Linked DNA regions of Homo sapiens. The protein of the gene in region 1 purifies or fractionates together with the protein of each later gene. This does not show direct contact. Each region holds a gene or a part of one and is shown in the gene's direction. Other genes may lie near its edges.

Region 1 (3,687 bases):
TAAGGGCCGAGGGCACAAGGCCCAACTGGTTCGTCCTTGGCAGTGTTTTAGAGGAAGGCTCTCCTGGGGCCACCACAGCTGCTTTTCAGCCTTGTTCCTCCTCCTCTGTGGCTTGCAGGATGGGTGTGGGATAGCAGAGCAGGGGGGTGTGTGTGTATGTGTGTGTGTGTCCTGTCAAACATAATCATAGCCGGACACTAGTGAAAGTAGTCAGACAGGTTTTAATCGGCAACATAACTGACATTTGCAATGGGGAATAGGGTCCAGGCTGAGCTGAGCTCAGGTTCAATTGGCACACAAGTGACTGGGGGTTTCCAAGAGAGAATGAGGGAGCAGGGAGGCAGCGAGTGGGGGCTCAGGAGAGTGGGGGAAGTGAAAAGTTACAGATGGTGGAAGCGGGTGGTCCGTGTGAACACATCTGGACATGCTGACGTGCTCACTGAAGTCAGGAGACAGTGTGTGGCTGTCCTCAGGTGTGGCTGGAACCCACAGTCGATTCTTTTGGCTGCCGTGAGGTTTCTCAGGCAGGCACTTTAAAGGGGACTGGGGTCAGCCTAGGGATGCCACCTTGAGCTGTTAGAAGCTATGTTAGTGGTTGTTCAAGTTGTTATAGGCAGAGGTGAGGCCCAGCCAAGAAGAGGGCTCAGAGGAGCCAGGCTGGAGTGTGGTCGAGGAGAGAACTCTTGGTCAGTGCCACAGCTAAGTGTTGCCAGGAGCACCTGCCACAGCCCAGAGAGCCCCTGGGGTGCACTCAGAGCTCCAGCACCTGCCACGCAGCACACCCCATGCCCCTGGGTCCCTGCAGGCGGAGGCCATGCAGGGAAGACCCCAGGGAAGGCTCCTGTCTCTGATTCCACACTACAGCATATTGGTCTGAAGACAGGGACTCCAAAGAGGCCTCAGAGGCTGCAGGGGGCCCAAGTCTTGTGGAAATGAGATGTGGGGAAAGTTGGGCCTTATTGATGTTGATGTTGTGGCCTCAGCCAGTTCCAATGCTAAGGCACTGGGAAAAAAATCTTATGATTTTTGGAGCACATTTAAAAATAAGGACAGGTTAGGCACGGTGGCTCATGCTCGTAATCCCAGCACTTGGAGAGCCTGAGGCCAGCGGATCACTTGCACTCAGGAGTTCAAGACCAGCCTGGGCAACATAGCAAGACCCCATCTCTACAAAAAAAAATTAGAAATTGGCTGGGCATGGTGGTATGTGCCTTGGTCCCAGCTATTCGGGAGGCTGAGGTGGGAGGCTTACTTGAGCCTGGGAGCTCAAGGCTTCGGTGAGCTAGGATCATACCACGGCACTCCAGCCTGGGTGGAAGAGCAAGACCCTGTCTCAAAAAAATAAGGACAATTTACATAAACAATGTTCCAAGTACCTTTCACACATCACATTGGGCCCCAACCTGTGAGGTGGTGCTGCAGTTGAGGAGCGTGCTTTTCAGAGGAACCTGCAGAGGGAGAGGTGAGGACACGAGCCCAGGGTCTTGACACTGGGATGGGGCAAATGGGGACACAGTTTTTCCTGACCCTCCCCCGCCCCTGCCCCTGGGAGGCCGCAGTCTAGGTGGGTGGGCCAGGGCAGGAGCGTGGATATGAGATGGGGGGCTGTGCTTGGGTGGAGAATCTTCAAGGGAGTGAAACAGTCCAGCTTCTTCGTAGATCAGCGTCTAAAAGGACAGCAGGGGGAAATGCCTTTTAAATTTTTTTTATTAAAAAATGAAAAATTTCCAGAGTTTTGAAAAAATTAAAAATAAAGATAAATAGAAATTGTATAAAGTGGGAAAATAGCAGCAAATAACAATAATTTACACCGAGGGAAGAAGAGAAAGCACGACCCAGCAGATGGAGATTGTCTGTGTGGGGCTCACCCACTGTGCTGTTTCCCCAGGTACCGCGTGGTGGTCTCGTACCCACCCCAGAGTGAGGCGGAGATCGAGCTGAAGGAAGGCGACATCGTCTTTGTGCACAAGAAGCGTGAGGACGGCTGGTACAAGGGGACCCTGCAGCGGAACGGCCGCACAGGCCTCTTCCCGGGCAGCTTCGTCGAGAGCTTCTGAGAACTGGTGCTCCCTGCACCCAGCTCACAGAGGGGGAGGCCGCCTGGGAAGCTCCACGGCACACAGAGAGGGAGCCATGGCGCCCCAAGGGTTCCAGGTCATCTCCAAGGCACCTGGCGGGGGATACCCTGGCCCAGGGTGGGGGCCAGGGACTGTGGAGGTCGTGCCTTCTCCCAAAACCCCCAAACGGAGAGCACACCTGGGATGTTCTTCAAGGAAATGCCCACCCCCTCTGTGGAAACTGCAAAGAAAGCACCTTGAGGAAGAGAGGCAGGTGCCGGCGCAGGCAGGCCTGTGGCTGTGGTTTGCAGCCATGGCAGCGTTCTCATTTACCACCTAAGCAGGGTTGGAGGTTGCAGGAGGTCTGCAGGCGAGGTGGGTGGCATGGGGGCCAGGAGCGCTGGAGATCATCTTTCTGGGCTGCCCTGGGCTTCCCGCGGGGCCCAGGTTGCTCTGTCACCATTCTATATACCTCAGTCACCTGCCGCCCGGCTGCTCAGCAGGGGTGTTTGTGAGGCCCTGGGGGTGCCCCGGAAGGGGCACCCCACCGCCCCTGTTGGGAACCAGAGCAGAATCTGTGGGCTTGTCGCCTGCCAGTAGTATAAGCAACACTTTCTGTTCACCACCATTGTCCCTTGCATTACTTCTTTCTTACAGCATATTTTTAACATAAAGCTGTTAGACTTTATATATTTCTAATAGGTCAGACATTGCCTATTTTTCATACATCTGGTGCTGCCTTTTTGTAAAACTAATAATGACTTGGTTGAGCTTGAAAGAAAAGATGTCTGAGGCGACATCAAAGGGGCAGAATTTTTATATTTCCCATATGGCTTTGGGAGAGCGCCGAGAAGCCGCCATCCCGCACCTCAGCGCTGGCCAGTACTCTGGGGGCTGGCGGGGTGGATCCATTGAGGGGGTCGGAGGGAGCTTGGAAGCAGCCGGTTTCTTTAAACTCTTACCAAAACCCCGCGCTCTGTCTAGACGGTGATGATTATTATTCAAGACCTGGAAACATTTCGAGGAAGGGCCACTATAATTGTCCTTTTGTGTGGCGGTAGAAGGAGCACGCAGGTCAACCCCAGCCGGGAAGGCAAAATCTTCCCTTTATTGCCTCAGAGAGAACTGCAATTAGCATTCTCAGAAGATGATTTCTTGGTATCAAAATGTGCAGTTTCTACAACAGTTTAGATCACCACCACCATTTTTCTTCTTTTTTAAAAATAAATAACTGCTCCCATTTCAGGCAGTGCAAACCTTCATCTGCTGGAGACCAGAGGTACAAGGAGATCAGGGGGTTGCAGCACCGCTGCAGGCTTGCAAGATCGGGGAGTTGGGAGGGCGAGAGAGGAGGAGGTGCAGCTTTGATGCTGGGACCTCCCTGAGTGGGGCTGATGAATGTATATTCATTAGCACCATGGCTCACTTCCCAGGAAGACTGATCAGGAGCCCTTCAGGGACAATTTTGTTCTCAAGATTCACACCTTAGGAACACATTTTTATCACCTCAAAATTTTGATCCATCACCCCTCTCTCCACCTATATTTTTACAAATACCATTCAGACTTAAATTAAGCTGAAGAAACTAGCCTTTGGTAACATAGGGTGTCATTGGTTTTCAGGGATGTAA
Region 2 (3,687 bases), on another chromosome or scaffold:
GTATAGAAATAATTGCGATAAAAAGTTAAAAGCAACTAATGCCATAAAAGAATGGTTTCCATTCTATCGTTTGCCTTCTAGACAATTTATTTGTACTAGCCTGATAGAGCCCTAATCTCTCCTTTAGTGACCCAATTCATATATATGTATATATATGAATGGTTTTTAAGTAGATAACAGAATATTTTTGTTCACATGCAGTTTTTATTTACACTTTTTAATGATTAAGGATAATAGAAATAAAGAGTATTAGGAGGAAAATAATTTTTAAAGCCTTATGACTATATACATGAAGAACCTAGAATTTTTTCCTTTCATGTCAGATGATAATACAGGTTTCCAGTGTTAGAGAATTTACATCATTTGTTTCTTTGTAGGGGAGTGAGTATTAATGTTCTCAGGCATGAAGCAGAATTTTACGGGATCACTCCATTAGGTATGTGCTCTTTTAATATTTGGTGTTTATGATTTGACTCATGTATGAAAGTTGCCCTAAATGAAATGTGTTTATATCAGGTCCTAATTTTTGATGGACTTGTTCAGTGCTTAGTTTTTGTGGATTTTCATAGTAAAAAGATGTTGTCAACTCTGACTTAATTAAAATTTTCCTTTTCTTTCCTTATCCTCTTGAACTAGAGAAAATAAAAATGGAGTACTGTTTTTCTGTTTGCATGTACTCTTGACAAGTTTGCTTTGAAATGTTTTTAGTAAGAAGGCTTCTCTTATGTGAAGAATTGGAGCGTTCCTCTTGTGGCAGTGTCCTTTTTCATGGTTACTTGCCCCCACCAGGTATTTTCACTTTATTAAATCTTTTAAAAAATTCCTTGTATCATTAAGCAAGTACAAGCATATGAATAGGAAAAACTGCTCCTTGATTATTGAGTTTTTTGTCTATAAATCTATTAGAAATGGTAAGAACTTTTGATTTTTATAGAAATTAAGTCACATTATATATTGGAGCAGGGGTTTGGCAAACTTTTTCTGTAAAGAGCCAGATAGATTTTGTGAGCCAGAGGATCTCTGTGACAGCCACTTAACTCCGCTGTGTATACTACATGAAGACTAGGTTTAACTGTAACCACTACAACTTTATTTACATAAATAGCATTGATTGGGCTGGATTTTCCATGGCCCATAGTTTGCTGACCCATATGTTAGAGCACTGGTTGTCAAACTGCTTTTTTGCAAAATTTAAGGAATTCTGCAGAGATAAGTCAGTGTCACCTCAGCCCCACTTTAGTTAGAAGAGCCTGATTTTACCTGTGTTATAATGGACTTCTGAGCAAGATTTCATTTTAAAAAATGTTCCCCTGTCAAATAAAAAATGTTTGAAAGTATGGGGAATTTCAGTTCTAAAGCAGTTAAATTATTACATAGTACCTAACACATAATACCTGTACCATAATTGTAAAGAGTGGCTGGCAGACTGAATTAATTACCCATTAATTCAGTAACCTAAAGCTTATTTATTGTAAACAGTATGACAATACCAGAAATCTGTTGACAGAATTTTGTCTTTGTCTTTGTTTTTTTCATTTTCATTTTATTTTTTAATTGTAATTAAATTATTTGTAATAATTTGCTATATTGGAAGATGTATTTCGGCTTTAATGAAATTCACATTTTTGTTTCTTTGTCACAATGTGATATTTTTAATTTTTGAAAGGTGAACTTAGGAATGTATTTGTTTTCTTCTTCTCTTTATAGGTATTCCTAGTCGTAAAATAAACAACACAGTCAGATCTGCTGATTCTAGGAATGGTCTAAATTCTACAGAAGGTGAAGCCCGGGGAAATGGTACACAGCCTGTTCTCTCTGGAACGGGAGAAGAAACTGTTAGGCTAGGTAAGCAAAGATTACAGAAATAGAAAAAGAAAAATACGTATGTTTTTAGTGCTGGGTGATATTGAGTAATTACTTTTAAAGATTTTTGCCTCATCTCCTTTTTTATCCAGATTTATCATTTATATCTTGGAAAGGTCTCATTTAACACTTAATTTTTATTTAAAATGTTGTGTAATCTTCTATCTTCTCTGAATCTTTAGAACAGGGTTGCCAAAATTTATCTGGTAAGAGCCAGAGATTAAATATTTTAGGCTTTGTGGGCCACGTGTTCTCTGTCAGACCTACTCAACTTTGCCATTGTAGCATGAACACATAATGGACAATATGTAACAAGTAAGCATGGCTGGGTTCTAACAAAACTATTTTTTTTTTTTTTTTTGAGACGGAGTCTCGCTCTGTCGCTCAGGCTGGAGTGCAGTGGTGCCATCTTGGCTCACTGCAAGCTCTGCCTCCTGGGTTTACGCCATTCTCCTGCCTCAGCCTCCGGAGTAGCTGGGACTACAGGCGGCCGCCACCATGCCAGACTAATTTTTTGTATTTTTAATAGAGATGAGGTTTCACCGTGTTAGCCAGTATGGTCTCGATCCCCTGACCTCATGATCCGCCCGCCTCGGCCTCCCAAAGTGCTGGGATTACAGGTGTGAGCCACTGTGCCCGGCTCTTAACAAAACTATTAACCAAAACAGGCAGAAGGCTGAAACTGGCCTGGTGGCTGTAATTTGCCAACCCCCGGTTTAGAATGTAAAATATTTCTTTTTCCAAAATCAACAGGATTTCCTGTGGATCCACGAAAGGTGCTAATAGTAGCTGGCCATCACAACTGGATTGTAGCTGCATATGCCCATTTTGCTGTGTGTTACAGGTAGTGTATAATTAATAATGCTTTGCTTTTACAGGTGGCAGTTTGAAAATTAATTGTGATTTTATATTTTTAGATTGAAAAGCTATTTTTTTTTAGTCATCAAGTTTTTTCCCTGCATATTTTACCCATGTCTGTATCATCTGATTAAGATTTAGTGTACTTTTATTTTCACAGCTAATTTGGTAAATGTTTCTGATAGCCTTTATCTGTTGTAAACATTTAGCAGACAAGTGTGAATTGTCATGTAACTGAGATATCCTGATGTATTATTTATTGCTTATACCTAGCTTCTGAGACTGTAGTATATAATGATGTTAGACAGGATTATTAATGTGAGCTCCCTGATGGTCTATCTCTAATGATTCAGTGTTTTGTATTCTATAGCAAGGGAGAGTACATTGGTCATAAATACCACATTTTGGGAAGTGAGGTAGTAAAGCAGGACAGTTATTGCACAAGTGGTATAGTTTAATATCTAATATGTGAAACTTACAAAGAAGTAGTTTGGTTTTACTAATGCTTACATTCTCAGAGCCTGAGAAGCAATGAAGAATAGTGTAGACCGGTGATTTTTTTTTTTTTAATTGGGAAAGTGATAGGACTCTTAGTTCAAAATCACTGTACTCATTGAGAAATGTTGATGACAGAGAATGGTGTAGAAGCACAAAAGTGGTTGGAATATACTAGCTTAGATTATTATTTCATTTAATTGCAGAAAAATCAAAGATACATAAACTATTTGTTTATCACTGTTGAGTTCGGTTAAGAAAAATAGTCACAATAAGCTGAAAAATATCTAAAATGTCTTCTAAAGTTTACAGATATAGTTTAAAGAATCCCAGATGTATTTTTTTTTTAAAAATCTGAATTTATGAAAGGTTTGGCATGTCTGGTAAGTGCTGTTTATATCAGTAATCTCAGGTTTATATTTTCCTTGTAGTAATGATTAAGTGCAGACTTTTATGTTTTAAGAGTGTTTT

What was found.
Region 2: the proteins of SH3RF3 (region 1) and KCTD3 purify together in Homo sapiens (affinity purification with mass spectrometry, with the first as the bait; one large-scale study listed by BioGRID). This does not show direct contact.

Annotation. Positions count from the first base shown.
Region 1 is NC_000002.12:109,499,615-109,503,301, forward strand, and holds part of SH3RF3 (E3 ubiquitin-protein ligase SH3RF3), read left to right. Parts: intron 1-1,888; coding exon 1,889-2,057; 3' UTR 2,058-3,687. UniProt on the Homo sapiens protein: Has E3 ubiquitin-protein ligase activity.
Region 2 is NC_000001.11:215,577,293-215,580,979, forward strand, and holds part of KCTD3 (BTB/POZ domain-containing protein KCTD3), read left to right. Parts: intron 1-377; coding exon 378-436; intron 437-636; exon of another isoform or gene 637-698; coding exon of another isoform or gene 699-708; coding exon 709-789; intron 790-1,707; coding exon 1,708-1,845; intron 1,846-2,616; coding exon 2,617-2,707; intron 2,708-3,687. UniProt on the Homo sapiens protein: Accessory subunit of potassium/sodium hyperpolarization-activated cyclic nucleotide-gated channel 3 (HCN3) up-regulating its cell-surface expression and current density without affecting its voltage dependence and kinetics.